Linked DNA regions of Homo sapiens: region 1 is linked to region 2. Evidence: fine-mapped expression QTL. A gene starts in region 2. The other region holds a variant in brackets. All regions are shown on one strand. Distances are from middle to middle.

Region 1 (2,915 bases), 270 kb after region 2:
ATGATGCCCTGTGCAACTGCCTGGGTTGTACTTCTGGGAAGCCAGCCCTGGGTGCCTGAGCTGATCAGATGTGATACAGAGATAGGTGTTAACCAGCTGCACTCATGTTCCTCCTCCAAATTCTGCATTGTGTTTCCACCATGTTTTGCAGGGATATCAAAATCAAATGCCAGCAAAATAAATGAGTGATGTAGGTTAGGGTTAGTGAAAAAAAAAAGGAGCAACTGATATTGAGCTTTAAGCAATTGTCACCACGGGAGAATTTAGACTTACTATTGTCTGACTTTCTAATTTTTCATAAGAGCCACAATCAGGAATTTTTTTTCTCTGATTTTTGAACATTTGGCAACTGTTCAGAAAAAATATCCAAAATTTGGAAATGAGGCAAAAGAATGACTGCAGTTTCTTTCATTCAGTGGCATCTAAGATCAGTGGTTCTCAAAGGGTTTTCCCTGGTAAATAGCATCTGCATCAACTGAGAACAAATCATCAGTCTGCCCCAGATGTACTAAATCAGAAACTCTGAGGTTGGAGATCAGCATTCTGTGTTGTAATGAGCCCTTCAGGGAATTTTGCTTTAAGCTTAGGTTTGAGAATCACTGCCCTTAACCACTCACTGTCTTTTCTGTTCAGGGCATTGTCTAACTCCAGGGAAACACAAGATTGTTTCACCTGCTGTTTACTGTTTGTGATTAATTAGGGGTCTGACATTTTATAACTCTGTAAAGTTGGATGTTAAATTACAGAAAACGAATAAATTGTCAATGATTTTTTTTTTTTTTTGTCCAGTAAAGCTGTAAACGATTATCGTCTGGTAGAGAAGATAACCCCAAAGAATGTAGTTTTATTGCCCTGTAGGTTATTAACCAGTTTGGATCTCAATCTTATTTTAGAGTTCCTTTTGTCTAGTTTTTCCTGTCCTTTTTTGAACCACCTTGGTGATCTTGCTGGTTCTCTGATTAGTTAATTAAAACCTGGAAAATGCTCACTATGTATTTTTATGATAATTAAATTTTTAACATTTTGAAAATATTTTGGACACAACTACAATCCAAATTATTTTTACAACACTGTGTTGGCCCACAGGTCACCAGCTCATGACCTCTCACAAAGAGGATTCCAGCTGCCTTATTATCCATACAGAAAACATCCTTGACCATTTGCTCCTATTATTCTTAATTTCACCTCCCGCTCTCTCCCTCTTGTCACATGAGGCCATTTGCCTTTCCCCAAACACTAAACACTTCCCATCTCTGTACTTTTGTTCATATGCACTTTTCTGCTTCAAGGCTCAACTTCAAAACCCCTCCTTCATGAAGCCTCCTACGATCCTTGTTTATATCCAATCTCTCTTTTTCTGGGCTTTTCCAATCCTTAGCTTCCGTTCCAGGAAAACACTTGTTTTCTCTTACCATATGTAAAATCAAGTTTGGACTGTCTCCTAGCAATGCTTTTCAGACTTTAAGTAGCAGCCAAATCACCTTGGGTTTTTTTTTTTTTTTTTTTTT[TG/G]GATCTTATTAAAATGCAGCTTCTGATTCAAGAGGTCTGGGTGGGAACTGACAGTCTGCATTTCTAATAGGCTCCAGGTTCTGCTGATGCTGCTGGTCTGTGGACCACACTTGGGCTAGTGAGGCTCTAGAAGGCAGGGGCTCTTACCCAGGAACCTCTGTTTCCAGGGCAAGTCATAGCGCTTTGCATAGAGCTGAATGAAAAATTCATGGACCCAGATGTCCTTTGGGTGTGGCTATAAATGCAAAAGGTTGTTGCTCTGAAATCTGTATCCCCACGTCATCTCCGTGGGAGAAAACTCCCATGCTAGGGTTCTATCTTTTTTTCCTCCTTTTCCCTCTTGGAATTGTGTCCTGGCTGTGTGACCTTGGGGAAGTTGTTTACCCCTAAAATGCCAATTTTCTCTTCTGTGAAATGGGATCCTAACACCCAGTTCACATGGCTTTTTGAATGGATCAAAGAAGATAATGGAGTGAAATGTCTGCAAAAGGTTGGTGTAACCTCTAAATCCCACCAGGGCTTTATCTAGAAAGGGGAAAAAGCACCTAGGGAAGGGTGGCTGCTAGCTGAGGAGGGGAAACAGCTGCAGGAAGCTGGCTCCTATGATACATTTTGCATCATTATCTATTAAAAATATTTGACTTCCGGTTTCTAGTCCTGCATGAAAGGAGCTTAGAAGTCACCACTCGGTCGTAACAACAAGTAAAAAGCTTGATGAACTGAAAAATCAGCTCTTCTCATGTCCAGTGGAGAAGTGAGGTTATATGGCAAGCTGCTGCCCACAAAATTGGAGAAACAGATAGATACAGAGTATCATAACATCAGAGCAGAAACCCACCAGCAGGAACCTCCTGGGAGGTGCTGGGGGAAGAAAACTGGAACTGTAATTGACAAACTGCTAAAGACTCCGCTAATTTTTGTTATTTTTAGCAGAGACAGGGCTTTACCATGTTGGCCAGGCTGGTCTTAACTCCTGACCTTAGATGATCCATCTGCCTTGGCCTCCCAAAGTGCTGGGATTACAGGCATGAGCCACCATGCCCAACCAACTGAAAAACATTTTAAATATGATTAATATGCTGAGGGCTTTAATGGAAAAAGAGACAACATGCAAGAACAGATAGATAATGTAAACAGAGAGGAGGGAATTCTAAGAATTAAAAAGAAATGTTAGAGATTAAAATCACTGTTACAGAAATGAAGAATCTATGATGGGCTCATGAGTAGACTGAACATGGCTAAGAAAAAAACCTCTGAGCCTGAGGATGTGAGAATAGAAATTTGCAAAACTGAATAACAAAGAGAAGAAAAGACTGAAAAAATAAAACAGAATACCCAGTAATTGTGAGACAAGTACAAAAGGTACAGATACACACAATGAAAATACCAGAAGGAGAAGAAAAAGA
Region 2 (2,915 bases):
ATAGAAAAGAGGTGGTTTCACTTGAGGGACCAGGGTCCGAGGTTGTTTATTTGGGATTATTGTTACCTAGCTTCATGACTAGCAACCATCAATTTCACTTCTTTGTGAATTGGAGTCTTTATTTGATCCTTTCGAGGGATCCTTCCATTTCAACCTCCTAAGTAGCTGGCCTCACAAGAGTGTGCCCCAACGCCTGGCTTTTTTTTTTTTTTTTTTTTTTTTTTTAAAGACTGGGCTGGCAGGGGGATCTCACTTTGCTGCCCAGGCTGGTCTCAAACTCCTGGGCTCAAGTGATCCTCCTGCCTTGGCCTCCCAGCCTCCCAAAATGCTGGGATAACAGGCGTGAGCCACTGTGCCTGGCCTGTAATGAACTATTGTAGAACCTAAGATTGGCCTTTTAAGACGTCTTTTCAGGCTTTTGCATTTCTGACAAACGGATGACCCCACCCAGACCAGCCACTCCTCTGCTGGCCCTCCATCAAGAAGCCGATTCAGCAAAGGAGAACCATTTTCCATACTCCTCTGATTGCATCCCTAACCAATCAGCAGCACCCATGCCCTAACCCTCTGCTCACCAAACTATCTTTGAAAAACTCTAGCTTCCAAATGTTCAGGAAGATTGATTTGAGTAATAACTCTGTCTCTCAAGTGGCATGGCCAGCCTCATGTCAAACTCTTCACTGCAATGACTTGGTCGCAGTGAATTGACTTTATCTGTAAAGTGGGCAGAAAGAACCCGCTAAGCAATTACACTATATGCAATTATCTTAAATGTTTCCTTGATTATTATATGTTTCTTCCAATTACGTTTGAATTCCAAGAGAGCTGGGTCTTTAACTATATTCCCCACTTCTGGAACATACAAGATGCTCAATAAATATTTGTAGAATGAAAAGAACTGTAAAATTTCAGCAGATGGATCAAATGAAACTTAAGGTTGCTTGTAGCTTTAACATGAGCATTGATAAAAATGAGTAAGTAGAGAAGGAAGTGATGACAACCATTGCAACAAAGCAATGGAAGCAATGTGCATATTTATCCTTAAAAAACACAAACCTGTCATATGTATGTGTATGTGTGCGTGTATATATAATGTTGGCTTTTTAGTTTCCCGTGGAGTGTGAACTGAGTTTCTGAGGTTTATAGTAAAGCATTTAACAAGGATTTCAGGTAGTTGTCTAAATATAAAACATTGTATCATAGAATTAGAGCGGAAAAGGATTTAGAATACAAGTTCTTCAATTTTACAGGGGTGGAAACTAAGGCCTAGAGATCTAAGTGTACTTGGGCATTGGGAAATAAATACAGCGATGTGTCTGTCGATGAGGAATGCGTATGCCAATCATACTTCTGTATAATCATTACTAATAACATAGTAATACTGCCTTACATTTGAAAAGTGTTTGAGTGTGACTAGACCCTGCACCAGTGGTTCTGAAACTTGAGCGTGATCAGAATCACCTAGAGGATTTGTAAAAGCACAGATCGCTGGGCCCCACCTCCAAAATTTCTGGCTCGGTAGGTCTGGGGCCGGGGACTGGGAAAGCTTAAGAGAAACCATCCCAACTCCTCTCAGCTCTCCCAACTCAACCTCTCAGCTCTCCCAACTCAACCGGCCGAGCTCGGCACTCAGGGAAAACTACAAGTCCCGGCGTGCCCCGCGCGCAGCGGCGGAAAGTCGGACACTTCCGCTCCACGCAGCGCCTGTGCTGCCGCGTCTCGACGTGTCACCGGCGGCGCCGCTGCTGTGGCAAAGGAAGGAGCTGACTGGGGGAGTTCGAGGCGGCGGGCGGCGGTGACCCCGGCCTGGAACTGCCCCGGTACGGAAGTGTTCCGGGGTCCGTGGGGAGCAGGAGAGGGAGGCGGCGGACCGTCCCGCGCGGGGCACGATGTTGAACATGTGGAAGGTGCGCGAGCTGGTGGACAAAGCGTGAGTATCGGGGGGCAGTTGTGGCCGAGGCCCACGTGGGGGAGGGGGGAGGGGGAGAAGGAGCTGGCCTTGGGCTAGGGGTTGCCCACGTCACGCCCCCTGGCTCTGCCAGCCCCATCATGGCGGCGGCCCGCTCCTTCCCGGCCCCGGGCCTCATCCCCGCTGGCGAGGCTGGGGAGGGACCCTCCCTCGTTTTAAAAAAAAACATCCTCTTGGCCACCCTTCTCTCCTTTCCAGGCCTTCCCGTCCCTTCCCCTATTCCAACCCCTGGGTGCCGACGCTTTGGTCATAAGGGGCGGGTTGTTTGGCGCTGGGTCACTGCCCTGGCCGGAGGACTGTCTTGGCCCCAGGCCGTGGGCTTTGCCTCCTGGGGAGCAGGGAAGGTTTGGGGGTGGGGGGCACAATGCACTGGTTCCCTGTGTCCCTCAAGGTGTAGTACGGAGAGACCTTAGACCTGGTTGGGGTGTGTCTTTTATCTTCCTTGCCTCCTCTTAATTCCTAATGAACCTGAAGTGTTGGAGTGGGTGGTAGTAGTGTAACAAGTGGCTATTGTGGTCAGCCTGAAGTTACTCAAGAAGACACTCATCCTTTGCTTTTCTAACACTAGTGAAAGTAGATCACTATATGACTTCTTGCGATTTTTTCTTCTGTTTCTTTTTCCACTACACATCATTTTTGGTGTGCTACTTGTTCCATTCGATTAAATTAAGAGGTCATTAAGAAATGTCCTCTTAAGGAAAAAAACAACCCAGGTTTATATCCTGTTGATCTGCTTTTAAAAGCAGGTAAAACGACCAGTACGTAGTTGATTTCCTTTAAGACTGAAATAACTTTAGTCTCTTACTTGCACAAGGAAAACCTTAACTTTTAAAATGAGTATATCAGGTATAACAGTGGTTAAGTAAGGTCTTCTAGGCCAGCAGGAAATAAAGTTTAAGAATTTAAGCAGTCCTCTTCCTTTGGGGCTTTAATGATTATGCAATAA

Direction of the effects. Alleles are on the strand shown, and positions count from the first base shown. SD is a standard deviation of normalised expression in the study named.
In carriers of allele TG in region 1, the expression in iPS cells of the gene that starts at base 1,715 in region 2 tends to be higher than with G alone (large effect, 1.5 SD a copy in HipSci).

What was found. PIP is the estimated chance that this variant, and not a neighbour inherited with it, causes the effect.
Region 1: its variant is fine-mapped to the expression of CLINT1 in iPS cells (HipSci, PIP 0.95).

Annotation. Positions count from the first base shown.
Region 1 is chr5:157,592,029-157,594,943 of GRCh38, reverse strand. No RefSeq gene overlaps it. Among named protein-coding and RNA genes, the nearest start is that of ADAM19, 18 kb to the right of the region's middle. RefSeq lists a silencer at 442-541. The variant TG/G (reference allele first, on the strand shown) is at 1,509.
Region 2 is chr5:157,857,945-157,860,859 of GRCh38, reverse strand. It overlaps CLINT1 (clathrin interactor 1), which reads left to right and starts at 1,715. Exons shown (of 12, transcript NM_014666.4): 1 at 1,715-1,930. The coding sequence starts at 1,890. RefSeq lists enhancers at 1,427-1,666, 1,504-2,085.